5 separate regions of the Homo sapiens genome follow, and regions 1, 3, 4 and 5 are each linked to region 2. Evidence: fine-mapped expression QTL. A gene starts in region 2. Each other region holds a variant in brackets. All regions are shown on one strand. Distances are between the middles of the regions.

Region 1 (5,096 bases), 21 kb after region 2:
AGCTGTGACCCTGGCGTTTCCCAGGAACGCCCCTGGCTCTGGTTCCCCTGGGGTGCCGGACTGGAGACCCCTGAGGTGGCCTGGGATGGGCCAGCCTTGCTGTACCACAGGCCCCTGCGCCACGCCCACCTCCTGCCTGCCCCGCCTCCACGCAGGGCCCCAAAGCTCTGGGGCTGTCACAGTTTCCATTCCGGGCTGACGCTGCCTGCAGCCTCTCTCCACGGTGACCTCCAGAACAGAAAAGAGGCAGCCAGTCGTGCACCTGGGAAGCTGCTGCCCCCCAGCCACTGCCCAGGTCTCAGAGGAGACCCCCACCAGACTGGGCCTCAGCCCCTCCTGTTCCTCACAGGGGCTACCAGCCAACACCAGCCATGGCCAAGTACGTCAAGATCCTGTATGACTTCACAGCCCGAAATGCCAACGAGCTATCGGTGCTCAAGGATGAGGTCCTAGAGGTGAGGGGCTGGAGGACGGGGTCCAAGAGGGGGAAACAGGGCAGGGCTTCAAGGGAGGGGCTACCAGGGGAGGTGGGGAGCGGTCTAGGGCCAGGCTGGGTGATGCCAGGACGGGGCACAGCTGCTGGCCCCTTTCTCCAGGGTCCCCGCCCTTGGACTCTGATCAGGATCCCCAGCCTGTTGGAGGGGCCTTCCCATCTTGGGGCTCCCCAAAGGCATGCAGAGACCCCTGTGCCAGGCTGGGGGGAGCATCTGCACCACGTGGACTCAGCGGGGGCCTGTCATTCACACCCACCCAGGAGCCCCCACATCTGCACTGGCCGCATCTGCCAGCCGGAATCCAGGCCACCCACTGGGGGACAGAAAGTGGAGCAGGCTAGGGGGGAGTGGGCCACATCCACAGCCTGGCTCGGCGGCTCACGCCTGTAACCGCAGCACTGGGAGGCCAAGGCGGGAGGATCCCTTTAGCCCACGAGTTCGAGACAAGCCTGGGCAACACCTCAAAACCCCATCTCTACAAAAAACATAAAAATTATCTGGATGTGGTGGTGTGTGCCTGTGGTCCCAGCTACTCTGGAGGCTGAGGTGGGGGGATCGCCTGAACCCAGGAGGTCGAGGCTGCAGTGGGCAGTGATTGCACCACTGCATTCCAGCCTGGGCGGCAGAGTGAGACCCTGTCTCCGAGAAAAAAAGGGTCCCCCAGACTCCTTGAGGCAGGGTGGGGGAGGAGCAGCCCAGCGAGGGATGGAGGGGTGGAAACAGGGGTGCGGAGAGAATGGAGCGAAGCGGGGCTCCGGGAGACCCTAGGGCGCTCCCGACCTCTGTAAAGCGGCGCCAGCGGGTGGTCCCAGCCCCGCAGAGCCTGGGTGTGGGGAGGGGCTGACGGCGCGCCCCGCAGGTGCTGGAGGACGGCCGGCAGTGGTGGAAGCTGCGCAGCCGCAGCGGCCAGGCGGGGTACGTGCCCTGCAACATCCTAGGCGAGGCGCGACCGGAGGACGCCGGCGCCCCGTTCGAGCAGGTGAGCCCGCGGGGGTCCCTGGGGTCGCAGCCCCCAGCTTCCTGGAGCAGCCCCGCCTGCGCCTAGCCCCGCCCCAAGGCCAGCCCCGCGGCTGGAGAGACTGGGGCAGGTGCAGGGCTCCCTGGGCAGAAGGAAAGGGCTGGTCCGCAGGCCGGGGCTGTAGGGGGATTGGCGGGGTGGGGAGGTCCCGGGCAGGTGCTGGGAGGCGGGGGCGGGGCGTGGGGAGCCTAATCGCCCCCCGCCCCCGCAGGCCGGTCAGAAGTACTGGGGCCCCGCCAGCCCGACCCACAAGCTACCCCCAAGCTTCCCGGGGAACAAAGACGGTGAGAGCTGCTGCTTCGAGGCGGGGGTCCCGGGCCCAGGGCCACCTGGGGGAGGAAGTGTGGGGGGGGTCCCTGGGCCGGGGGCGGGGGCAGGGGCAAGGCAGCGGCGGGCCTGAGTCGCGCGCCCCCTCAGAGCTCATGCAGCACATGGACGAGGTCAACGACGAGCTCATCCGGAAAATCAGCAACATCAGGGCGCAGCCACAGAGGCACTTCCGCGTGGAGCGCAGCCAGCCCGTGAGCCAGCCGCTCACCTACGAGTCGGGTCCGGACGAGGTCCGCGCCTGGCTGGAAGCCAAGGCCTTCAGCCCGCGGTGAGCGGGGGCGGGGGATGAGCTGGGGCCCGGGCGAGGGGTGGGAGGTGCGGCCGAAGGTGCGCAGCTGTCGGGGCGGGCGCCAGGCAGCCTCGCTCACAGCGCGGCCCTGACGCCCAACTGCCCGCCCCCAGGATCGTGGAGAACCTGGGCATCCTGACCGGGCCGCAGCTCTTCTCCCTCAACAAGGAGGAGCTGAAGAAAGTGTGCGGCGAGGAGGGCGTCCGCGTGTACAGCCAGCTCACCATGCAGAAGGCCTTCCTGGAGGTGAGCCCGCCTGCGCTCCGGCGCCACGCCCCTCCTGCCCCTGCGCCCTCCTCTCCCCCGCCCGTTCCTGGGGTCGCAGAGCAAGGGGGAGGCCGGCACCCAGACACGTGGGACCCCCGGCTGAGGATGCCCCCATTTCTCCTCCCTAGAAGCAGCAAAGTGGGTCGGAGCTGGAAGAACTCATGAACAAGTTTCATTCCATGAATCAGAGGAGGGGGGAGGACAGCTAGGCCCAGCTGCCTTGGGCTGGGGCCTGCGGAGGGGAAGCCCACCCACAATGCATGGAGTATTATTTTTATATGTGTATGTATTTTGTATCAAGGACACGGAGGGGGTGTGGTGCTGGCTAGAGGTCCCTGCCCCTGTCTGGAGGCACAACGCCCATCCTTAGGCCAAACAGTACCCAAGGCCTCAGCCCACACCAAGACTAATCTCAGCCAAACCTGCTGCTTGGTGGTGCCAGCCCCTTGTCCACCTTCTCTTGAGGCCACAGAACTCCCTGGGGCTGGGGCCTCTTTCTCTGGCCTCCCCTGTGCACCTGGGGGGTCCTGGCCCCTGTGATGCTCCCCCATCCCCACCCACTTCTACATCCATCCACACCCCAGGGTGAGCTGGAGCTCCAGGCTGGCCAGGCTGAACCTCGC[A/G]CACACGCAGAGTTCTGCTCCCTGAGGGGGGCCCGGGAGGGGCTCCAGCAGGAGGCCGTGGGTGCCATTCGGGGGAAAGTGGGGGAACGACACACACTTCACCTGCAAGGGCCGACAACGCAGGGGACACCGTGCCGGCTTCAGACACTCCCAGCGCCCACTCTTACAGGCCCAGGACTGGAGCTTTCTCTGGCCAAGTTTCAGGCCAATGATCCCCGCATGGTGTTGGGGGTGCTGGTGTGTCTTGGTGCCTGGACTTGAGTCTCACCCTACAGATGAGAGGTGGCTGAGGCACCAGGGCTAAGCAATTAAACCAGTTAAGTCTCCCAGGAGCCGTGTGTCTCAGTTCTCTGGGAGTCGGAGTGGGTCCTGGAGCCCCCGGAAACTGCACCTTTTCTAAGCAGTGCCGGGCAGAGGGCTGGCCGTCCGCCAGGCTGCTCTGCCCCTGAGCCCAGAGGGGACCCTGCCCACTTCTCTTCCTGTGGCCCTCCCAGGCCCAGCGACCAGAAGGCCCAAAGCGTGTCATCCAAGCCCGGCTTTCGCTGGGCACAACCCTAGTGGGAGCGGTGGGGACAGAGCCAGCTCGGCCAGACGGTCGGCAGGCCCCAGGAGGGCCATGAGTCAGAGGGCAAGGCTGAAACTGGATTTGGAGATCTTAGCCCAGGCTGACGGAGGCTCCCAAGAAGGGGGAGCAGGCCACACTCAGCACCCTGCGTGGGAGGGGCACCTGACCGCCAGATGGGCGGTCCACCTGAGCCGCACCCTTGGAGGGGCCTTTGGTGCCCTCTGCCGGCCGCTCCATGTGCTGCCGTGAGTGGCCGCCAGGGGTGCCCTCGCCCTGGATTGGTGGCAGGGGGCAACCCACAACCATGTGTCCCCATAGCAGCCGTGAACCCAACCCTGGTGCGGAGCATCCGGGGACACAGTCCTGGGGTCTTGGCCTGGGCAGGGGCGACTGTGGGGCTGGGCTGGGGGGGGCGTGTCCCTTGCCTGGTCCACCACCCAGCCAGGCCTGGACACCAGGCCACAGAAGCCCTGACTCACAGCTCAGGCCACACTAGGCCAAGTCTTAACCACAGTGTCTGGTCGGGGCAGCAGGGATTGTCTGGTGCCCTCTGAGCCACGACCCGGGCTTGATGGCCACCACCACTCCTCCAGGCCCCCGGAAGAGGCCCCCCCACCCTGTCAGATGGACCCTGCAGTGAGAGAGACAGGTCCAAGAGGAAAAGGGGAGGGATGGGGGCACCGGCCCTCCTCCCTGCAACCTGCAGCTCCCGCTGCCTGCTGAGCCACCACCTCAGGACGGGGATAGGCACCGGGGCTATATCTGCTCCAAAAGGGGCCTCTGTGGGCCCCAGGATGCCAGTCCTTGGAAGTGAGGGAGGCTGCCCACTCCCCAACCACTCCCAGCAACAGGACCCTTCCTCCACCAGGATGGTCTGGGCTTCATATGCAGCCTCCAGGCTGGGCTGCTCAGCTTCTGAGGGCCCCAGATCTACACCTGCTTCTTCAGCCTTCTCCCTGTCCACCTCCCCCAGCCCCATTTAGAGCCCCCTACCTGCTGTGCCCCACTCTGCCACCTGCACAGCTGAGGAGCCCCAGGAAGCCAGACCCCCAGACTCCAGCCCCCAGATCCCAGCCCTAGGCCCCAAGCAGGCTCCCACCCCAGGAGCCCTGAGTCCGAGGCACCCTGGCCCCAGCTGCCTGCTCGGACCTCTGGGCTTCCAGAAATTACCTCCCGTTTCTTCCAAGGGGCTTCCTGCCACCTCCTGAGACCCCCCTCAAGAGCAGATGGGACCACCGACCTCACCGGCCTGGTGATGGGCACAGGGTCACCTGGCATCGGGTGGGCTGGCTCTCTGTGTCCTCTCTGGCCACCCGCCCCAGGGGTGAGGATTGCCCCCCTTCCTGCCCTGAGGGCATCACTCTTGGGGGCCTGTGGTGTTTTGAGTGCTGCCCGCGGCCTCCGGAGGCCCCAGTGGCAGCCCCGTGAGGCAGGCGTGGATAAGAATGACCCGTAGAGGGGCCAGGTCACCTGCTCGAGGCCCGAGTTTGGGGCAGGGGCTGGGGTTAAC
Region 2 (5,092 bases):
CCACAGACCCCCATGGGCCCCCAGGGCCGAGAGGGAGGACAGAGCCCTTCAGAACAGAGGCCTCATCTCACTGCATCCCCCATCACCCCCTAGTTCCCCAATGGTCCTAATTTGTGTTCTGAGATCCCAGTTTACTCCGTGGCCAGGCCCCACCTGTGTTTCCAAGTCGGGCTGGAGACGCAGGATGGGGTAGGCCTTGTGCTCTGAGCAACCCCAGCTCTGCCTCACAGGCAGGCAGGCCCGGTGCAAGAGTGGACTCTGGGTTCCTAAAGCAATAAATGCAAACAAGCCAACAGCTCTGCTGCCTAGCAATTTCCATCTTAGCCACACTTCTCCCTTCAGGGGCTTCGGAGGAGAGGTCAGGGCTAAGGCCGGGGATGAGACTGCAGGAGAGAGAGCAGCGGAGGGCCACATTCGGAGCCTCCGTCCACTCCAGTTTTATCAGCTTTTGCCTTTTGCACGGAGTGCTAAACAAATTCTAGCTCTGTGTTTTTTTCCCATTCCCAGATTTACTATCAGTTCTCCTTAAAAAGTATCTAAGCTGTTACAGTAGCTTTCCCTTCACTTGATTCTATTGTGTGTTTTCTATGTTTGGAATAATTACACCCAAATATCTAGATATTTTCTCTTCACCGCATTTTGTAAATAAAGAGATGTGTATGCCTCCCTGAATTCTCCTAATTATGGCCACCTCCCCCACCCCATCTCCAGTTCTCCTGCCCTGCAAGAGAGCACACCCCACTTGCCAGCTGGTCAGTTCCTGGCTGGCCTCGCCCTCGGGCCCTGGCTGCCGGGCGCCTTCCGCTCGGTGGACTCCTGAGGGCAGGAGGCTGCGGGACTGTCCTGGGCCTCCACTGGGGCTCCCTCGGCTGGGGTGGCTGTGGCTGTGGCACCTGGACAGTCTTTCCTGCCTGTCTTCGTGGAAGCGGTGGGAGCACCCAGTTGTCCTGGGCCGACTTCCTTTGACCTGTCTGTGGCCCCCAGTGGCCACGGTGAGCTGCAGGACAGCCCTGAGGACCCACTTCACACACCAGCGCCTGAGCGCCTCGGGCCACCTCCCTCACCAGCGCCTGCACTCGCAGAAGACCAGCTGGGCACACCTGCCATCTGGAGGACCCAGCCCACAAACCATGCAGACCAGGGAAGGACCCCCTCCCTGAAGCTGGAGACCTGTTGCCTTCATGGTTAATGGATCCTGATACCTCCAGTCTCAGCGAGCACACAAAGGCAGTGGTCACCTGTTCCACAGGGAACGCCATGGCTCCAGGTGACCCGGAGTGGATGGGGCCCGAGAGGCCAGCCTGGACTGTCTCCTGAGGGCAGGCTCCGCACTCAAAATCGTGTTGACAGGCACCCGTTTAGGAGTGGAGAGGGACCCCACCCCCCAGCTGTCCTCTCCAGCGCCTGTTTCCCACTTGGCCACTCCCAGCTCTGCCTCCAGGAAGGGTGAGGGCACGGGTGCACCGAGGGGTTGGCGTGTGTGACCCTGAGCTCTGGGTCAGGGCAAGCTCATGCATGGAGCAGGATCACGGCAGGTTCCTGGAGATCAAACGGCAAAGGCTGTAAACCAGGAAGCCAGGTCTTGCCTGGGCTCAGGGGCAGGCACTGGGCCCGAAGGAGGAGGGCCACTTCCTGCCAGCCCTCCACCGAGCTCACCTATGGCGCCTCCCCAGGAAGTGCTCCGGCCAGCCCAGGGTAAACACGCTAGCCCTGCCCCTCTGGGACCATAGCCCGGGGACCCAGACTCTTGGCCACGCTCATTCCCACCCCTACCCAGGACCGGCAGCCGGAGCCTTGGGTCCCTGCATGGGCCTGGGGCGCCCTGTGCCCCTTCACCTCGTCCTCGTCCAGTTGACTGCTGTGGCAGCCGGTGCTACCCGCTGTGTCCACTGCACCCTGGCCCTGTTCTGAGCGGTCACAGCAGCTGGGGAGAAGGGCCATCCTGGAAGCCGGGCAGATGAGGACGGAACCAGACAGTCCCACTGTGGTGGGCAGAGGTGGGGCCTGGGCCTGACCACGGGGCAGTGCAAGGAGAGAGGCATCCTGAGAGGGCCTGAGGTGTCCCCACCTCCCCTGACACCCCATCCCTCAGTGCCCAGGCTGGGCAGAAAGGGGGGCCTGGAGGAGCAGCTGCACTGTGAACTCAGGGCTCCAGGCCTGGGGTGGGCATGGCTGGGTCCTGCCTGACACCCACCCACTCACCGAAGCCTCTGCCCCTGGGCCTGCGGTGGGCCCGGTAAGGGAAGTGACTCTGCCCCATGCCTGGGGCACCTGAGGGGTGCACCTGGCCCGGCGGAGGCTCTGACCTCCCCAGGGCTGGAGCCCTCCCCAGCAATGCGCCAGCGCTGCCCCCGAAGTCCCATTGGCAGCGTTCCCCCGTCCCCCGGCCTGCTGGGGCGCAGCTAGGCCCTGCCCAAGGAAGAGCTCGAGGCCTCGCCCTGCTCATCCCGCGGAGGCGGCCCTGCGCCCCGCCTGTCCCCAGCGCCCCAGCTCTAGGGGCTAGGCCCGCGGAGGGGCACACCAGGCGGGTGTTGGGGAGGACGCAGAGGGCTGGGGCTGGAGCCCAGGCGGGGCAGGGGGCGGGGCGGAGCTGGGTCCGAGGCCGGCGGGGGCGCCTCCATCCCACGCCCTCCTCCCCCGCGCGCCCGCCCGCTCTCGGGTGACTCCGCAACCTGTCGCTCAGGTTCCTCCTCTCCCGGCCCCGCCCCGGCCCGGCCCCGCCGAGCGTCCCACCCGCCCGCGGGAGACCTGGCGCCCCGGCCGAGGCGCGAACAGACGGACGCACCGGCGAGCGCCGAGGGGACAGGCCGAGCGCGGGGCGCCGGAGGCAGGTGAGCGCTGCGGACACGGGGGAGCGCGCCCGCCCGGGCCTCAGTTTACCCGGTGGCGATGGGACGCGGGGCTTCTGGTTCAGGACACCGGGACGAACGCGGCGTCGCAGGGCGCGGGGCACTTGGAGGGCGGCCGGGCCGAGGGCGCGGGGCAAGGGGCTGGGGGCCTGGTCGAGTCCCCACCTCTCCTGGACGGGTCCTGCTGCAGCCCGGCCTGCCCCCGTCGGTCCTGGGCGGCGGCCGGCGAGCAAGGATATTTTTAAGCCAGCGATGGGTGACTCACCTGCCCCGTCCTGCCCACTCCCAGCTCTGGGGCTTGGTGGGGGCAATCCCTGCGTCCGGAGAGCGCTGGTGGTAGGGAGGCTTCTCCCGGTTCTGTGAGCAGCAGGACCCTCCCGAGGGCCTGACCGTGGAGGTAGCACTGCACACCCACTCCCTGTGGGCCGGAGCCAGGAGGCACTTCCTGGGTGTCGGAGCCCAGAAGGAAACCAGTGGCCGGGAAGCACCAGCTGGGTCAGTCTCCAGGTCAGGGTTGGGGGTGGGAGTTTCAGGGAGGAGGGGAGGCTGGGACAGGGGCTGCAGAGGCCCTGCCAGGAGAGGCAGGAGGGTGGGCTGGCAGGAGCCTGTGGGCACGCGAACTTCAGCCATCCTAGATTCCTGGTCCCTGCGTCCAGCTGCCTGGCGTTGCCCCTTGCTGCGGGGTGTCCCTGGTGGCAGGGGAGGGGGAGGCAGGGCCGGGCATGCCCGGACCTCTGCCCCCACCCACCCCGTGCTCAGTCCTGGGTCGGCTGTGCTGGGAGGCAGGCCCAGCTGGCGGCGGCCCCTCCCCTCGCGGCCCCTCCTCCCCTCGCGGCCCCTCCTGGGTCCCAGCCTCTCCCGGGCCTGCTTAGCACCCAGGCCTTGTTGGCATAGCTCTCCCACCGGGCCTTCTCCGCCTGCCTCGGTCTCCTTTCCCACCCTCAGCTTCCCCAGCTTATCCCTTCCTCCCTCAAGCCATAGCTTCCAAACAAGGACAGGGCCAGGGCCTGAGGGGCCTCCCCATTCCAGGGCCCCACCCAGCGCCTATGAGGGCAGCCTGGAGCCCCTGTGACTCAGCTGACCCCTCCCCAAGGTCACTCAGCATGTGGAGCTGGAACTTGAACTTGGAGCCCGTCCCTCTACCCTCCTGCCCTGCTGGGACCTCCTCCCCTCCACAGCCCGACTGACCGGGCACCCCGCTCTGCCTCACTTCACACCGGGAAAATGACCACAGTACAAAGTGCAGCCTGGGCCTCCAGGGCTTCGTCCCCACCACCAGTGGGCCAAAGAAGCCTCCCCAGGGGGGCGGGGCTCCCACAGGGCAGGAGGCAGCCCCATACCCATGTGCTTCAGACCCAGACACCACACCTGGACCCACCCCACTGCTGCCCGGCCCTGCCTGGGCCTGAGGTCCCCGATGCCCTGCAGGCAACCGAAGGCCAGGAACCTGGCCTTCCCCAGGGGGGTCGCGTGTCACAGCCCTCCATGTTTGCGTGCCCCCAGGCCTGAGTCTGCAAGGGTGCGTTGGTGTCTCGCCCAGGTGTGTGCCTGGACACACGTGCCTGGCGCCCTTGGTGGAGCCCGCCAGGAATCCCATTAAGCAAACACTCAGGCTCGCCACTGAGCCCGTGAACATTCCAGACATTCTCCACGGATAGATGGATGGAGGAAGTGGCCATACCCCCTGGTGCACCCAGCCCCTCATGTCAGCGGCAGTGCCCCCGGGCCTCCCAGACCCTCCCACTAGGCCAGACCTGGTCAAACCAGAAAGTCCCGGGTGCTCCGAGCCACTCCCTTGACCCTCCATACCAACAGCAGTGGCTGGTGACCCCCACCGTGGCAGACCCAAACTCTGAAGCCACAGGGGACAGCCCTGCAGCCCTGGCAGGAGGCAGATGGTGTGGACCTGTGGGGAGCTGATCACAGAGCCACAGAACAGCCAGGTCCCCACAGGGCATAGTCCCCTTGGGACAAGTCAGCCTGGTTCAGGGCCATCAGGCTCTGTCCATCCCCCCGGGAAGCCCCTAGGGTCCAGCCCAAATCAGACCCACCTGTCTGCCCTGGCGGCTGGGCCTTAGTTTCCCCAAAATGCTCGGGGAAGAGGTCAGCACTAGGAGCCCAGAGACAGGCTCTGAGGATTCTGCCCCTGGGGGAGGCCAGAGGCACCTGCCCCATAGCCACCCTACCTCGTTGGAGGGGCAGTGATACTGTGTGTTGGGGCCACTGGACTGGCTCCCAGTCTC
Region 3 (5,096 bases), 67 kb before region 2:
CTGATCTGCACAAGAGGGACTGAGCCTGGCTGCGGCCGCACCTGATGCCTGTGCACACCTGTCCCTGGTGCAGGCCCTTCCCCCGCAGCCCCGTGACCTTGTCCTGTGAGGCTCACGGTGCCTGCTCCTTCTCAGAGTCCTCATTTCTCCCTTTAACGCACGCCCTGTCAGCGCCTCCGTCTAGCCCGTGTCCTCCAGACCTTCGAGGTCAGGGGCCTCAATTCCTGGCACAGCCCCTCCACTCCAGGCCTCCCAGAAACAGACTAGAGCATCAGGATGTGCGCCGCCTGGGGTCCCACAGAGTGGTGCCCCCTTTTAGTGTCTTCTAGGCCCCTTAGTGACAGACTACAGAAAATACCTCTCAGGTCACAGGTCACCCCTCTTTGGTGAAGAGTCCATAGAATTCTCTGCTGCGCTTTGCAAGCACTTTCTCTTCTGCACGTTTGGAACCTACCCCGGCCTGTCGTGTCTTTCTCCTGGCCTCCTCGCGAGCCGAACCTACTGTCCGGTCCCGGGACCCCCTGCCCAGGGTCAGAGGGGCGCCTACCTAGCTCACGGTCTTGGGCCGGAGGGAATGGAGGAGGGAGCGGGGTCGACCGCTCAGCTGTCCGCCCAGTTTCGGAGGCGGCCACGCGAGGATCAACTGTGCAACGGGTGGGGCCGCGGCTGACCGTGGTGGTCGCGGGGGCTGAGGGCCAGAGGCTGCGGGGGGGGGGCGGCGGGATGAGCTAGGCGTCGGCGGTTGAGTCGGGCGCGGAGTCGGGGGCAGGGGGAGCGGGCGTGGAGGGTGCGCACGAGGTCGAGGCGAGTCCGCGGGGGAGGCGGGCAGAGCCTGAGCTCAGGTCTTTCTGCGTCTGGCGGAACGGGCCTGGGAGGGAGGTTTTGCCAGATACCAGGTGGACTAGGGTGAGCGCCCGAGGGCCGGGACGCACGCACGGGCCGGGTAGGATGGCGCTGGCGTCGATGCCCGCGCGCTTCAGGGCCTGGTCTGGCCGCCCCTCCATCCTTGTCGGTTTCTCGGGTCGCGGACCCCGCGCGGCGCCGGGCGATGCTGGCCTGCCCGTGGCCACCACCTCGCTTCATTCCCGTCTCTTTGGGCCGCCGCATTCGTCCACGTGCCCGTCTCTCCCTGCGCAAAATTCCAAGATGAGCAAATACTGGGCTCACGGTGGAGCGCCGCGGGGGCCCCCCTGAGCCGGGGCGGGTCGGGGGCGGGACCAGGGTCCGGCCGGGGCGTGCCCGAGGGGAGGGACTCCCCGGCTTGCGACCCGGCGTTGTCCGCGGTGCTCAGCGCCCGCCCGGGCGCGCCATGGGGAACCGCAGCACCGCGGACGCGGACGGGCTGCTGGCTGGGCGCGGGCCGGCCGCGGGGGCATCTGCGGGGGCATCTGCGGGGCTGGCTGGGCAGGGCGCGGCGGCGCTGGTGGGGGGCGTGCTGCTCATCGGCGCGGTGCTCGCGGGGAACTCGCTCGTGTGCGTGAGCGTGGCCACCGAGCGCGCCCTGCAGACGCCCACCAACTCCTTCATCGTGAGCCTGGCGGCCGCCGACCTCCTCCTCGCTCTCCTGGTGCTGCCGCTCTTCGTCTACTCCGAGGTGAGCCGCGTCCGGCCGCACGAGCATCCTCACCTGCTCCTCGGTTCCCCGTCCCTGTCCCTACGGAGGACCCGGCGCGACCCGGCCCCTTTCTGGTGCGGAGCTTCCAGCTGGGGCGGCGGCAGGGGCGCTGCGCCTTGTCCCTCGGCGATACACCCACCGCCGCCACCTCGCGACCTTCCACCCGCTGCGCTGTCTGTCCCCCGACCCTCGTTCCTCTTCTCCTTCCCCGTCTGTCTTGGCGTCTGTTATCCAGGAGATGCCCGTCCTTCTATCCAGGGACCCCGGAAACAGGCGACTTTGTCAAGCCCAGTCCCCTCCGTAGCTGGATTTCACCTCCAGGGCAGCCAGCTGGACAGACAGGCAGATGCAGGCTCAGCCCCCTGGCTGCCGTGGGACACACACACACACACACTGCCACAGCCACTGCCCACCACACACACCTAGTGCAGATGCTGGCACACCCCCAGAAGGAGGCTCACAGCTCGCAGGGGAGACCTGGGCTGGACAAAACCCAGGGGAGGGGAGGGTGTGTGGGGACCAGGCCCCTGCTGAGAACCCTGGGGGGAAGCCTGAGGGGGAATTGGGGGATGGAGCCCACACTCCACACCAGGTCTGGCCCTCGAGTGGGTCGGCCTTGGTGCCAGCCCCTCTGCGGCCAGAGAAAAGCAGCTTAGGGCTGAGCTGGAGACGCGGTGTCCCCGACTGTGGGGGAGGGGGACTCGAGGTTTCCCCTTGATGGACACAGTGAATCCAGGCGGCTGGGGCAGAGACCAGCAGCACGGGACACGCGTGACCTGTGCTCCTTTCGAGCCGCAGACGTCACAGTGACGACGTTTAAGCTCCTAATCTCCCCAAATCGGCGGGAAGGATTAGAGGGGCTGCCTGCTCCTTTGCCCTTGGAGAGAGTCACTCCACGTGGAGTCCTACGCTGGGCACTGGGCACGGTCTTCATATTTTTAATTATAATTTATCTTCAAGACAATTATGATGTGGATACTATCATCACCCTTGTCTTACAGATGAAGAAACAGAAATGAATTAACGTGCCCGAGTCTCCCACAGAGAACTTAGCCAACAGAGCAGCCAGCTTCGCTTCTAGGCCCAGCGGGGACCCTGCCTACCCCAGGCTGGGGAGGGGCTCCCTTTGAGCCCGATGATATCAGGCCCGCCCCCAGGGAATTCCCCAGGCCGTTCTCATGTTTGTAACAAAAGGGAGACCAAGGCCAGAAGCCGTGATTCACGCCTGTAATCCCAGGACTTTGGGAGGCAAAGGCAGGAGGATAGTTTGAGACCAGCCTGGGAAACATACCAGGCCTGGTCTCTACAAAAAATTTTAAAATATCAGCCGGGGGTGGTGGCTGCGGCTGTTGTCCCAGCTATTCGGGGGAGCTGAGGCGGCAGAATCGCTTAAACCTGGGAGGCGGAGGTTGCAGTGAGTTGAGATCTCACCACTGCACTCCAGCCTGGGCAACAAGAGCGAAACTCCGTCT[CA/C]AAAAACAAAAAGAAAAACAAATCAGCCGGGGGTGGTGGCGCGCGGCTGTAATCCCAGCTACTCTGGAGACTGAGGTGGGAGGATCGCTTGAGCTCAGGAATTCCAGGCTACAGTGAGCCATGATGGAGCCACAGCACTCCAGCCGCGGTGACACAGCGAGACCCTAACTCAAAACAAAGGGAGATCTGCGTGGGGAAGGGGTGTTTCCCTGCCCGGTCCTCTGGCCTCTGGCTCACAGCCGGGCCCCCTTCTCCGTATTCAGCCCTGGAACTACCCATAAGAGTGGGGGCGGGTCACAAGGGCCCGCGGTGGCTGGGAAACCTCAGGGCCTGTGGTGTCGCCGCGCAGGTCCAGGGTGGCGCGTGGCTGCTGAGCCCCCGCCTGTGCGACGCCCTCATGGCCATGGACGTCATGCTGTGCACCGCCTCCATCTTCAACCTGTGCGCCATCAGCGTGGACAGGTGCGCCGCCCTCCCCGCCCGCGCCCCGGCGCCCCCGCGCCCCGCCCGCCGCCCTCACCGCGGCCTGTGCGCTGTCCGGCGCCCCCTCGGCGCTCCCCGCAGGTTCGTGGCCGTGGCCGTGCCGCTGCGCTACAACCGGCAGGGTGGGAGCCGCCGGCAGCTGCTGCTCATCGGCGCCACGTGGCTGCTGTCCGCGGCGGTGGCGGCGCCCGTACTGTGCGGCCTCAACGACGTGCGCGGCCGCGACCCCGCCGTGTGCCGCCTGGAGGACCGCGACTACGTGGTCTACTCGTCCGTGTGCTCCTTCTTCCTACCCTGCCCGCTCATGCTGCTGCTCTACTGGGCCACGTTCCGCGGCCTGCAGCGCTGGGAGGTGGCACGTCGCGCCAAGCTGCACGGCCGCGCGCCCCGCCGACCCAGCGGCCCTGGCCCGCCTTCCCCCACGCCACCCGCGCCCCGCCTCCCCCAGGACCCCTGCGGCCCCGACTGTGCGCCCCCCGCGCCCGGCCTTCCCCGGGGTCCCTGCGGCCCCGACTGTGCGCCCGCCGCGCCCAGCCTCCCCCAGGACCCCTGCGGCCCCGACTGTGCGCCCCCCGCGCCCGGCCTCCCCCCGGACCCCTGCGGCTCCAACTGTGCTCCCCCCGACGCCGTCAGAGCCGCCGCGCTCCCACCCCAGACTCCACCGCAGACCCGCAGGAGGCGGCGTGCCAAGATCACCGGCCGGGAGCGCAAGGCCATGAGGGTCCTGCCGGTGGTGGTCGGTGGGTTCCTGTCCTGAGGGGCGGGGAGGAGAGGAGGGGGGGGGTACGAGGCCGGCTGGGCGGGGGGCGCTAACGCGGCTCTCGGCGCCCCCAGGGGCCTTCCTGCTGTGCTGGACGCCCTTCTTCGTGGTGCACATCACGCAGGCGCTGTGTCCTGCCTGCTCCGTGCCCCCGCGGCTGGTCAGCGCCGTCACCTGGCTGGGCTACGTCAACAGCGCCCTCAACCCCGTCATCTACACTGTCTTCAACGCCGAGTTCCGCAACGTCTTCCGCAAGGCCCTGCGTGCCTGCTGCTGAGCCGGGCACCCCCGGACGCCCCCCGGCCTGATGGCCAGGCCTCAGGGACCAAGGAGATGGGGAGGGCGCTTTTGTACGTTAATTAAACAAATTCCTTCCCAAACTCAGCTGTGAAGGCTCCTGGGGGCTGATGGGGAGTGGGGAAGAGGGGTTTCTGCCTCAGTGGCCCCAGGCCCCCCAGCCAGTTAACCTCTTTCTCCCCGCCAAGGAAGCCCACAGAGCAGACCCCACCAAGCCGGCCGCCTGCTCAGGGTGAGGGGGGAAGGGGCCCCCGAGAGCCACTCAGTTCCGCAGCGCTGGGGCCCAGCTTCCCCTCTCTGCAGGGGAGAGGAAGCAGCACCCAGCAGGGCAAGGTGTCTCCTGGGGAAGCCCAGTTCCGATGGGAAGAAACAAATGGGGAGAGGCGGGGTGGGGGGCTGTCAGCCGCCAGGCCCTGCCCGGGCCAACTCCCACCTCTGAGAACCAGGCACAGGGGGCTCCAGGCTCAT
Region 4 (5,096 bases), 230 kb before region 2:
ATGATGGCTGTGGGAGGGGAGTCTCTGGATAATCAGAGAAGGAGGGGAGTCTCTGGGTAATCAGAGGGAGGAGGAGGGGAGTCTCTGGGTAATTGGAGGAGGGGAGTCTCTGGGTAATCGGAGGAGGGGAGTCTGGGTAATCGGAGGAGGGGAGTCTCTGAGATGGAGGGGAGTCTCTGAATAATTGGAGAAGGAGGGGAGTCTCTGGGTAATCGGAGGGAGGAGGGGAGTCTCTGGGTAATCGGAGAAAGAGGGGAGTCTCTGGGTAATCGGAGGGAGGAGGAGGGGAGTCTCTGGGTAATCGGAAGGAGGAGGAGGGGAGTCTCTGGGTAATCGGAAGGAGGAGGAGGGCAGTCTCTGGGTAATCAGAGGGAGGAGGAGGGGAGTCTCTGGGTAATCGGAGGGAGGAGGAGGGGAGTCTCTGGGTAATCGGAAGGAGGAGGAGGGGAGTCTCTGGGTAATTGGAAGGAGGAGGAGGGCAGTCTCTGGGTAATCAGAGGGAGGAGGAGGGGAGTCTCTGGGTAATCGGAAGGAGGAGGAGAGGAGTCTCTGGGTAATCGGAAGGAGGAGGAGGGCAGTCTCTGGGTAATCGGAGGGAGGAGGAGGGGAGTCTCTGGGTAATCGGAGGGAGGAGGAGGGCAGTCTCTGGGTAATCGGAGGGAGGAGGAGGGGAGTCTCTGGGTAATCGGAGGGAGGAGGAGGGGAGTCTCCGGGGGAGTCTCTGGGTACTCGGAGGAGGAGGGCAGTCTCTGGGTAATCGGAGGGAGGAGGAGGGCAGTCTCTGGGTAATCGGAGGGAGGAGGAGGGGAGTCTCTGGGTAATCGGAGGGAGGAGGAGGGGAGTCTCCGGGTAATCAGAGGGACGAGGTTGGAGTGGCCGCTGTGATGGTGGATTACCATTGCACGTTTAGCCCAGAAGAGACAAAGATGGTTAAACAGTGTGTGCGCAGTGGTTAATGGATACACACAGATCTTGTTGCTGTACAAGCTGAGGGGGCCTAGAACCAGCTATGCTTGCAGCAGTGAGCACACCCAGGCCCAGATCCTGGTTCCTAGTGCCCTCCAGTCCACGGGGCCAGGGCTCTGAGGAGAAATGGCTGATTCCAGCACCGGGGCAGGAAATGCCCAGGATCAGCTGATCCTGGCAGTTCCAGAAAGTGAGGAGCTCTGTAAACAAAACCCCACAGTCACGGGATTGCGTCCCAGTGAAAGAGCCTCCCAGTGGCCAAAGAGCAACAAAATAATAAAGTAGTATTAGAATATAACCCAGAGTAGAAAATAAACATCCACGAGCCCATAGTGATATAAGTGATTGAGTAAATAAACAGAGGGAACAAGACCAACCTTCCCTGCAGAAGGTTTTCAGTAAATGAGGTAGATCCCCCCATTCCAGGAGCTGGCGTGAGCTCCCGGCACCGCTGTGCGCTGCGCGTGGTGACCTGACCTCCTTCCTGGGCGTGCAGCACGGAGAGGGCAGTGGGAGGAGGACGCTGCAGCCGAGGTGCCCGCAGACACCCCCAAGCCCAGTGGTCAGGTCAGCATGCACTGGTCATGTTCATGGCGTGGCCGACGGGGAGGCTGCTGCCCCATCCTCCCAACCCCGACGACCCCAGCCCGGCCATGCAGAGGCATAGTCGACCATCTCACTAAGGAACATTCCACAGAATTCCTGACCAGGCCTCCTCCAAACCATCCAGGTCATCAGAGACAAGGAGAGTCTGAGAAACCGTCCCAGCCTCGGGGAGCCTGAAGAGACAGAACGAGTAGATGCCATGTGGCTTCCAGGAAGAGATTGTTGGGGGCGGGGCAGGGGGAAGGACATCAGGGGAGAGCGAAGGAAGTGTAGGCCTCAGCAGCTGTGTGGCAGCACTGGCTTATTTATTTTTTATTTTTTATGTTTATTTTATTTTATTTTTTGAGACAGAGTATCACTGTGTCACCCAGGCTGGAGTGTAGTGGCGTGATCTCGGCTCACTGCAACCTCCGCCTCTCGGGTTCAAGTGATTCTCCTGCCTCAGCCTCCCGAGTAGCTGGGATTACAGGTGCCTGCCACCACATCTGGCTAATTTGTGTATTTTTAGTAGAGATGGGGTTTCACCATGTTGGTCAGGCTGGTCTCGAACTCCTGACCTTGTGATCCGCCTGCCTCAGCCTCCCAAAGTGCTGGGATTACAGGCGTGAGCCACCGCACCCAGCCAGCACCGGCTTATTAATGGTGAGATGTTAATGGGAAAACTGGGCCTGTGAGATATGGGAGCTTTTACTATTTTTACAATAATTCTGTAAATCTAAAACCATTCTAAAATTAAAAATTTATTTTTAAAATGCAATATATTTGTTTTCCTTTTAAAGCACTTCCCTCATTCTTACCCAACGGGACACACCTTCTCAAGTACTTAAGTAATTCTTTTTTTTTTTTTTTTTTGAGACTGAGTCTTGCTGTCACCCAGGCTGGAGTGCAGTGGCGCGATCTCAGCTCACTGCAACCTCTACCTCCCAGATTCAAGTGATTCTCCTACTTCAGCCTCCCGAGTAGCTGGGATTACAGGC[G/A]TCTGCCACCACACCTGGCTAATTTCTTATATTTTTAGTAGAGACAGGAGTTTCATGTCGGCCAGGCTGGTCTCGAACTCCTGACCTTTAATGATCCACCTACCTCAGCCTCCCAAAGTGCTAAGATTACAGGTGTGAACCACTGTGCCCGGCAAGTAATTCTTATGAACAAATTAGCCTTATAAAGTTGTCATAAACATTATGTGATGTGTGGCCAGGTTAGAGTCCTGTGTGACCCGGTCTGAGCTGGCCTCTGGGCAGCATGCCGTGTGGGGGCTGCCACAAGCTGATTCAGGGAGCACCGGCCTGGGGTGACGCACGCCTGTCGGGCGGAGGGCGGCCTGGGGTGACACGGATGGTGGCCTGGGATGACACGCGCCTGTCAGGCGGAGGGCGGCCTGGGGTGACACGCACCTGTCTGGTGGATGGCGGCCTGGGGTGACGCGCGCCTGTCGGGCGGATGGTGGCCTGGGGTGACGTGGATGGCGGCCTGGGGTGACGCAGATGGTGGCCTGGGGTGACGCGGATGGCGGCCTGGGGTGACGCAGATGGTGGCCTGGGGTGACGTGGATGGCGGCCTGGGGTGACGCGGATGGTGGCCTGGGGTGACGCGGATGGTGGCCTGGGGTGACGCGCACCTGTCTGGTGGATGGCGGCCTGGGGTGACGCGCACCTGTCGGGCAGATGGTGGCCTGGGGTGACGTGGATGGCGGCCTGGGGTGATGCAGATGGCGGCCTGGGGTGACGCGGATGGCGGCCTGGGGTGACGCGGATGGCGGCCTGGGGTGATGCGCGCCTGTCGGGCGGATGGTGGCCTGGGGTAACGCGGATGGCGGCCTGGGGTGACACAGATGGTAGCCTGGGGTGACGCGGATGGCGGCCTGGGGTGACGTGCGCCTGCACCGGGAGCAGCTTCCCTTGGCCAGTGCCCATGTTCCTCTTTTCATTTTTATCTTTTCTGGGGAGGGTAGGGGGACGTTTTACTGTCTTTCCACTGAATGTTATGACCCTCCCCACGCCCCTTGGAGGCACAGCTGAGGTGGGGCCTATGTCTGGCTCCAGGGGGCCCTGAAAGGTACTTTTTACACCTCCCACCCCTCAGCACTGAGAGACCTCGGGAGGGGTACCGGTGACAGGGACGCGGGCCCCACCTTGCTGAACCCAGCAGCGAGGGCATCTCTGCCTCTGTCCCTGGAGGCTGACAGCGGTAGTGTGGGAGCTGGGGCCTGGGTGGAGACCGGGTCAGAAACTCAGGTTTCGCCTGGGTGGGCCATGAATGTCCTGCCGAGGGTGAGACCCTCAGGGCTCTGGGTGGAGAGCAGCACCTGCCCAGAAGCAGTAGACCCTTGTCCCGGCTGCACCAGGGGCCAGCGACCTTGTGCCCTCCTCCATCCTGCAAGCCTCGGGCGGTGCTTGGCCTCACCTGCCTCTGTCTACTCAGGACTTTGAGGCCAGGCACTCCTGCAGGCAGAGAGGGGAATTTCTGAGACTGAAGTTGTTACTGGGTATTTTTTAACAGCGCTGTCTTAAAAAATAGATAGCGTGTCTCTGTGGCCCCGTCTATTCTTGCGGCCACACGAACGTGCGTGTGTGTGTGCAGCTTCCCTCACGGCAGCCAAAACCCAGAGGCCGCCCAGCGTGCGAACACGCCAAGGTGTGACTGTCGGCACGGCACTGCCGAGCCGTGGGAGGGACTGGGTGGTGCAGCGGCCAGTGGATCTCAGACCCTGAGCTGAGCACGACTGGAGAGGATGGGTGCATCCGAGCGTCTGCAGAGCACAGAGCGCGTCCGCAGAGCGGGTCCACACCTTGGGTGCAGCGAGCGGATGTGAGCAGTGTGCCTGTGACCAGGGCTGTCTGCACATCCGCCGGCCTAAGCTGCTGCTCACCGAAACCCACTGGGACTCTGGCTGAGGCCGGCCCCAAGGAGCTTTGCCGAGGAGGGAGCACCTTGCCCCTGCCCAGAGCGGTCCCTCGCATCCTCCTTCCCGTGAACCTGCATCTTTGGTTGCAGTTACAGCTCTCACGCTTCCATCTTATGAATCACAGGAGTCCCGTTGGTTTTGGATGAGTTGACACCAAAAAGACACAGGAGCTCTCTAGAGACACTTCCTGGGGGTCCTGCCGCGTTGGAGCAGGGAGGCAGTAGCTCCTGACGCCTTCCCTCCTACGTGGGCTTTGTGATCACTGATGGTCACATGCGGGGCATTCGGTGGCCTCTGTGTAGAGCCAGTGTCTTCCTGATGTGACACTGGGAACCACCAGCAGCCCAAGCACAGGGACCTTCTCCTGGCCACTGGGCGGGCTGCAAATGTGAGGGCGAATGTTGGGTGCAGGGTGGTGGAGGTAGCTGGGCCTTCCCTGCCGCGGAGGAGGCAAATGTGAGCGCGAATGTCCAGCCCAGGGTGGTGGAGGTAGCTGGGCCTTCCCTGCCGCGGAGGCGGCAAATGTGAGGGCGAATGTCCGGCCCAGGGTGGTGGAGGTAGCTGGGCTTTCCCCGCGGCGGAGTCGCCCAGCTCTGCCCGAGGCCCCTTCCTCCCGCCCCAG
Region 5 (5,096 bases), 150 kb after region 2:
GGGGTCCGCCCCCTGCACTCAGAGCGGCTGCCCCACGCCCTGGTCCCCTCTCCTCTCCTCTCCTCTCCTCACTTGATGAGACGGGACACGTTGCACACGTGCGCGCCGGACAGGGCCACCCGGGCACTGCGCCTCTCCTAGGGTCGGGGTTCGAGTCCGGGTCGTGGCCAGTTTTGCGCGGGGCCCCGGTGCCTCCTCTGCGCCCGCTCCCTCCTCGGTGCAGCCGTTATCCTTGCCTCGGCCCCGCCCCTCCAGGCAGGCGACCTGTCGGGCCCAGGGACTCACTTCCGAGGGTTTGAGCCGGCTGCCGCCAAGGTCCCCCAGTCGCCGGGAGGCGCTGCGGAAGGGAATCCTGGACACTGAGCAGGGCCGTGGGCCATCAGTGTTCGCGGGAGACACTGGCTTTCCCGCGCCTCCGGCAGCAGAGGCTTCCCTAACTTTTGCGGAGGTGGGGTCAGGTGTGCTCAGACCTGCAGTGGTGTCCGGGGGGGCCCTGTGTGCTGGATGGAGCAGAGCTGAGGTAGAGGGCGGACAGGGTTCCACCCCACCCCAGCCCCATGTCAGCAAGAGGTGGGGCAGGATTCCCACCTGGCCAGGTTGGAGCAAGCCTCATGGAGCCGCGACCCTGTCCTGTCCCTGGCTCCTGTGGAGGGCAGCTGCAGTTGGGGGTGGCCGAGGATGACCTGGACCGGGCCTGGGGCTTTGCTGGCTGGGCTGGGGGAGGTGAAGTGATACCAAGGTCATTCTGTGCCCTATTCTTAATTCCTGAACCAGCTCCTGCAGCTGGGAGTCGGGGGTGTGGCCTCAGCTCCTGCCTAGGCTCTGGGCTTCAGAAGGAGGCTGTCCATCTGCATAAGGTCCAGCTGGGCCAAGTGCCCAGAAGCCTGGGTCTGCCTTCCCACCTCTCCCCTCCTGAGCCCAGGCTCCTTCTCTAGCCAGCTTGGGGTGGAGGCAGGGGGGTCCCTGGGAGGGACAGCCAGCCTGGGTTGCCTGCTGAGTGTGACCCAAGGAGGCTCTTGGCCCAGACATCCACCTCCAGAAGGGGTCACCCAAGGGTTTGTTTTCTGCAAGAGGCTCTGGAGGGGTGAGGCCCAGGCCTGAGGGGCGCCTTGGAGGTAGGGGTGGTGGGAGGTGTGGGTGTGGTCTGGAGCTGGTGGGTGTGGGGGGTGGGCTGCAGGTGGCTGAGTGACCAGAGTGTTTCTGTGACGGGGGGACGGGGCAGAATGACTGAAGGGCAGTGGGTGTGGGGGCCCGGCAGGCAGGCAGGCAGGTCCTGGGAGGGGAAGCCCTCTCTCCTCTCCACCCTCCTCCTGTCCTCCGTGGCCTGGACACCTGCCTTCAGGGAGAAAGAAGAGGGTCCTTTCCCAGGGGGGGTCTCTCTGCTCTGAGAGCAGCCCGCCCTCATGGAGGACCCCCAGGTGGACCTCTCTTTGCTCTGTGAACCCCAGAGAAGCCTCCATTCCTACCGCATGGCAGACACACTCCCCCATCCTCAACCTGGGAAAGAACACACAAGGAACCCCCTTGGGACCCTATTCTGGGCTGGAAAATGCAATTCTCTCTTTTTTATCTTTGTTTTTTGAGATAGAGTCTTGCTCTGTCGCCTGGAGTGCAGTGGCGTGATCTTGGCTCACTGCAACCTTCCATCTCTGGGGTTCAAGCGATTCTCATGCCTCAGCTTCCCGAATTGCTGGGATTACAGGCGCGCATCACCACGCCTGTCTAATTTTTGTATTTTTAGTAGAGACAGGGTTTCACCATGTTGGTCAGGTTGGTCTCGAACTCCTGACCTCGTGATCCGCCTGCCTCGACCTCCCAAAGTGCTGGGATTACAGGCGGCCCCAATTATTTTTTATTAATCAATCACCACCTTCCCGCCAGTCCAGCAAACTGGAGCCCCGCTGGCTTCATACACCAGCCTTGGCCCCCCCCAACCCTGGGCTGGTGCCCAGTGGGGGTCTAAGGGTGGGGGCGGGGCAGGGGAAATAAGAATGAGTGGGGGTTTTGCCAGGAGAGTCTGTCCCGGGCTGATGTCCACGCCTGCTGTGCCCTGAGTCACTGTGAGCTAAGCCCTCTCCTCCTGGCGTGAGGCTATTTCAGGAGTCAGGCCTAGCGCTCCCCTTCCCCAGGGCTCCTTTCCTTTTGGGGGTGCCAGCCCCCTGTTGTCGGGGCTTTTGCCGCCCACTCCATTTCCTACTCGTTGGGAGACCAGGGGATACAACCTGGCCTCCTCCTCCTCCTCCTCCGTCTTCTCAGGGGCGAAGTTCAGGGGTTAAGGTGGTGGGAGGGACGTCCCCCCGG[C/A]GGGACCTCAAGATCCCCGCGTGTGTCTGTCCTGACCCCCCGCTGCCGGAGTCCTGCTGGGCCTGTGGGGAGGGCATGGGGGAGCCCCAGTGGGCAGCCAGTGACCAGAGCCGTGGGCAGTGGTGGGAGCCGGGGTGGGGTGAGGAAAGTTGTGTGTGACTGGGGGGCTGTGCCCGTCCTGGGTGTGGCTGTGGGTGTGGGGGCAGGGGCTGAGCCCTGTAAGTGGTACAGGTGCGGCCAGGGCACTGGGAGGGGTTGGGGGGCTGGGAGTGGGGTCCCATGCCTGGCTCGTGTGCGGTGGTCAGGGTGCAGCTTCCCTCTGCCCCCAGCTTGCCTGGCTGCCCCTTAGCTTTGCTCTCCTGTGCCCTTAACCCCAGCCTGGCACCCCTCTCTCCCACCTTTGCCTCCATGTTCTCCTCAAAGCCCCCCTTCTTCCAAATGCAGACCCTCCAAGGCCCTCACAGTACTCCTGGCTTCCAAGGTCTCTTTGGGTCCAGGCCTGAGCCCCCCTCCACACCCATGGTCAGGCTAGGGCCCCTGGTCACTGACGGCCTGGGGCAGCCTGGGGGCCTACCTGGGAGGGGAAGGGAGGGGCTCGCTCCAGAAGGCTGATTGACGTATTTCTTTACAGCGTTGGTTCGGATTTCCCAGGCAGGCATCTTTGCTGGGGTCTGGGAGGGTGGGGCTGCTGGCAAGAGTCTGTGCTCAGAGCCTCCAGCTTTGGGTGGAGTGGGGAGGGTTCCTGGGGCAGCCAGGGTGGGGAGGTAGGATGTGTCCTGGCCTGGTGGTGGGGGACCCGGTGGGGCCTTCAGAGTTCAGAGCACTGGTGCCAACTCCTAACCCCATGGACATCTGGGGACATGCTACCTGCCTTCAGCAAATAGAGGCCCTCACCCGGTGATGGCAGCTCCGCTGGGGCACAGCCACTGAGCCTTCCTTTGAGCCCTCCCTGCAGAGGTTGGGGAGTGGGAAGCAGGCTGCCTGTGGTGGGGCCGGGGTGTCTCCTGGGAGCCTCATTCCGGGGGAGGCTGGGTGCAGGGCCCGTGAGCCTGAGCGAGGTGTCCTGGTCCAAGGCAGGTGCCGACACAGACACAGGTTAGCAATGGTGAGGGCGTGGGGGGCTCTGCTGCCCTGGGACCCCCACCTTCAGGCCTCTGTGCTGCCTGGTCAGCTCAGCTGCTGCCAGCGACACTCTTCCCCTAATGGAAGTGGAGGTCCCGGGGCGGAGGGGAGAGGACGGGGCCTGCTCTTCCCGCCTGTCAGGGATGGAGGCAGCCGAGCTATTTAGCAAGGTGCCACCACGAAGGGCTGTCCTCCCGCCCTCCTGGCCTCGGCTCCTTCCAGACGCTGCTCCCCAGGGTGGGTGCTGCTCCCCTTTCTCTTCACCCGCAGCACCAGGAGCTTGGTGGAAGCTCCGGCCGTCTCCGCACTGTATGGTTAGGGCCTGGCTGGGGGACCGGGTGGGGGTTGGAGTCCCACCTGCCAGTGCGGGACGCCGGGCAGGTTCTGCCCTCCTTGAGGCCTCATTTTCCCATCTGCACCATGTGGGGCGGTAGAGGGTGAGGTCCCCATATACTGGCCTGGCTCGGGGGTTGAATGGAAATGTGGGAGGCCTCTCAGTTCCCCACCACCTGCGCTGATCCCCGGGGAGACCCCCCAGGTGGGCAGTGTGAGTCTCGGAGCCAGGTGGTCCAGGGCCCCAGCCTGGAGGGGCACGGGGGCTGTCCTGGCTCTGCGCTGCCTGGGCTGTCAACCCTGGAGGTGTGGGGGCCCCTCAGCCTCACTGCCCACTCTCTGTTGTTCCAAAGGAAAGTCCTGGCTGCGCTTGAGGCCTCTGCTCTAAGATCAGCAGTGAGCCTGGTGGAGGGGGTGCAGTGGGGGCCAGCCTTGGCTTCCCCTCCCCTGGGATGAGCTGAGACGATGTCTGGCAGATGGCATGGCCGGCCTGCCTGGCGCTGGCCTCTGGGCAGCACAGTGTCCCCAAGGGTGGCAGAGGGCTCTGCCTTCAGCTCCCAGGCCTCTCTTTGAGGAGTTTAACATCCCAGGCCAGCCTTTGGATCAATTGTTCGGAAACAATCCGTTTCTGAACAAAGGCCCTGACGCTGGCAACCACAGCGTGTCTGAGCCTTGGGGAGTGTGTGGCTCCCTGTGGGTGGGGAGCAGCAGCGGTCGGTCGGGGGACACTGCCTACCCAGCTGTGGGCTCCAGGCAGCTCTGGTGCTGTTGGGGGTAGGTCAGACTTGTCCACCCAGTGACACAGGCCTGGCTCCACGGGGCCTCTGCAGGTTCCAGGTCCCAGCTGGCGGCAGGGCAGGCAGGCCGGGCCTCTGTGTGGAGAGGGCTGTCTCTGGGGGCAGAGATGTGGCATTGGCAGCCCAGGGCTGCAGGGGGCAGGCAGAGAAGTCAGGAGGCCCACGCAGGGGGACGGGAGTGAGCGTGGGGGACCTGGGCTTCCAGCCGCGCTTGTGCGATGTGAGCCGTGGTCCTGGCCTGATGACGGCAGGCCACCTCCTTGCTGTTCCCACGCAGCCCTGCTGCACCCACAGCCCCGCTGGGTCACAGTCTCCTCCTGGATTCCTGTGCCTCCAGCAAACTCCTACCCACCCTGCAGGAGCCAGCATTGGCACCCTGGGCAGGTGCCCACTGACGAGGGCTGTTCTGCTCTCCCTGCTTTGGACACTGGCCTCAGGGTGGGCCTTGGTCACTGGGTGGGGCTGGTCTCCTCATCTCTGGGCCCTGGGGTCCCTTGGAGAGCTCCTAGGGTCAGGGGTGAGGGAACGGAGGACAGATGGGGA

The links.
Region 1: its variant is fine-mapped to the expression of EPS8L2 in whole blood (TOPMed, PIP above 0.99).
Region 3: its variant is fine-mapped to the expression of EPS8L2 in whole blood (TOPMed, PIP above 0.99).
Region 4: its variant is fine-mapped to the expression of EPS8L2 in whole blood (TOPMed, PIP 0.97).
Region 5: its variant is fine-mapped to the expression of EPS8L2 in whole blood (INTERVAL, PIP 0.90).

The regions. Positions count from the first base shown.
Region 1 is chr11:724,375-729,470 of GRCh38, forward strand. It overlaps EPS8L2 (EPS8 signaling adaptor L2), which reads left to right. Exons shown (of 21, transcript NM_022772.4): 16 at 350-455; 17 at 1,354-1,473; 18 at 1,724-1,796; 19 at 1,930-2,110; 20 at 2,245-2,377; 21 at 2,527-3,353. The coding sequence ends at 2,607. Among named protein-coding and RNA genes, the nearest start is that of TALDO1, 21 kb to the right of the region's middle. RefSeq lists silencers at 1,382-1,681, 2,162-2,351, 3,953-4,042 and an enhancer at 2,813-3,718. The variant A/G (reference allele first, on the strand shown) is at 3,022.
Region 2 is chr11:703,458-708,549 of GRCh38, forward strand. It overlaps EPS8L2 (EPS8 signaling adaptor L2), which reads left to right and starts at 2,774. Exons shown (of 21, transcript NM_022772.4): 1 at 2,774-2,831. It overlaps TMEM80 (transmembrane protein 80), which reads left to right. Exons shown (of 5, transcript NM_001042463.3): 5 at 1-672. It also overlaps a transcript of DEAF1 not described here. RefSeq lists enhancers at 687-1,614, 3,470-4,396, 4,397-5,092 and a silencer at 2,591-2,720.
Region 3 is chr11:635,996-641,091 of GRCh38, forward strand. It overlaps DRD4 (dopamine receptor D4), which reads left to right and starts at 1,274. Exons shown (of 4, transcript NM_000797.4): 1 at 1,274-1,594; 2 at 3,438-3,550; 3 at 3,653-4,311; 4 at 4,406-4,711. The coding sequence starts at 1,310. The coding sequence ends at 4,608. RefSeq lists enhancers at 1-91, 92-625, 1,161-1,694, 1,695-2,229, 2,230-2,763 and 4 more. The variant CA/C (reference allele first, on the strand shown) is at 3,088.
Region 4 is chr11:468,692-473,787 of GRCh38, forward strand. The region is part of intron 2 of PTDSS2 (phosphatidylserine synthase 2); the gene reads left to right. Among named protein-coding and RNA genes, the nearest start is that of PTDSS2, 21 kb to the left of the region's middle. RefSeq lists enhancers at 2,643-3,166, 3,167-3,689. The variant G/A (reference allele first, on the strand shown) is at 2,550.
Region 5 is chr11:850,565-855,660 of GRCh38, forward strand. All of the region lies in intron 3 of TSPAN4 (tetraspanin 4), which reads left to right. Among named protein-coding and RNA genes, the nearest start is that of TSPAN4, 10 kb to the left of the region's middle. RefSeq lists an enhancer at 3,943-4,456. The variant C/A (reference allele first, on the strand shown) is at 2,302.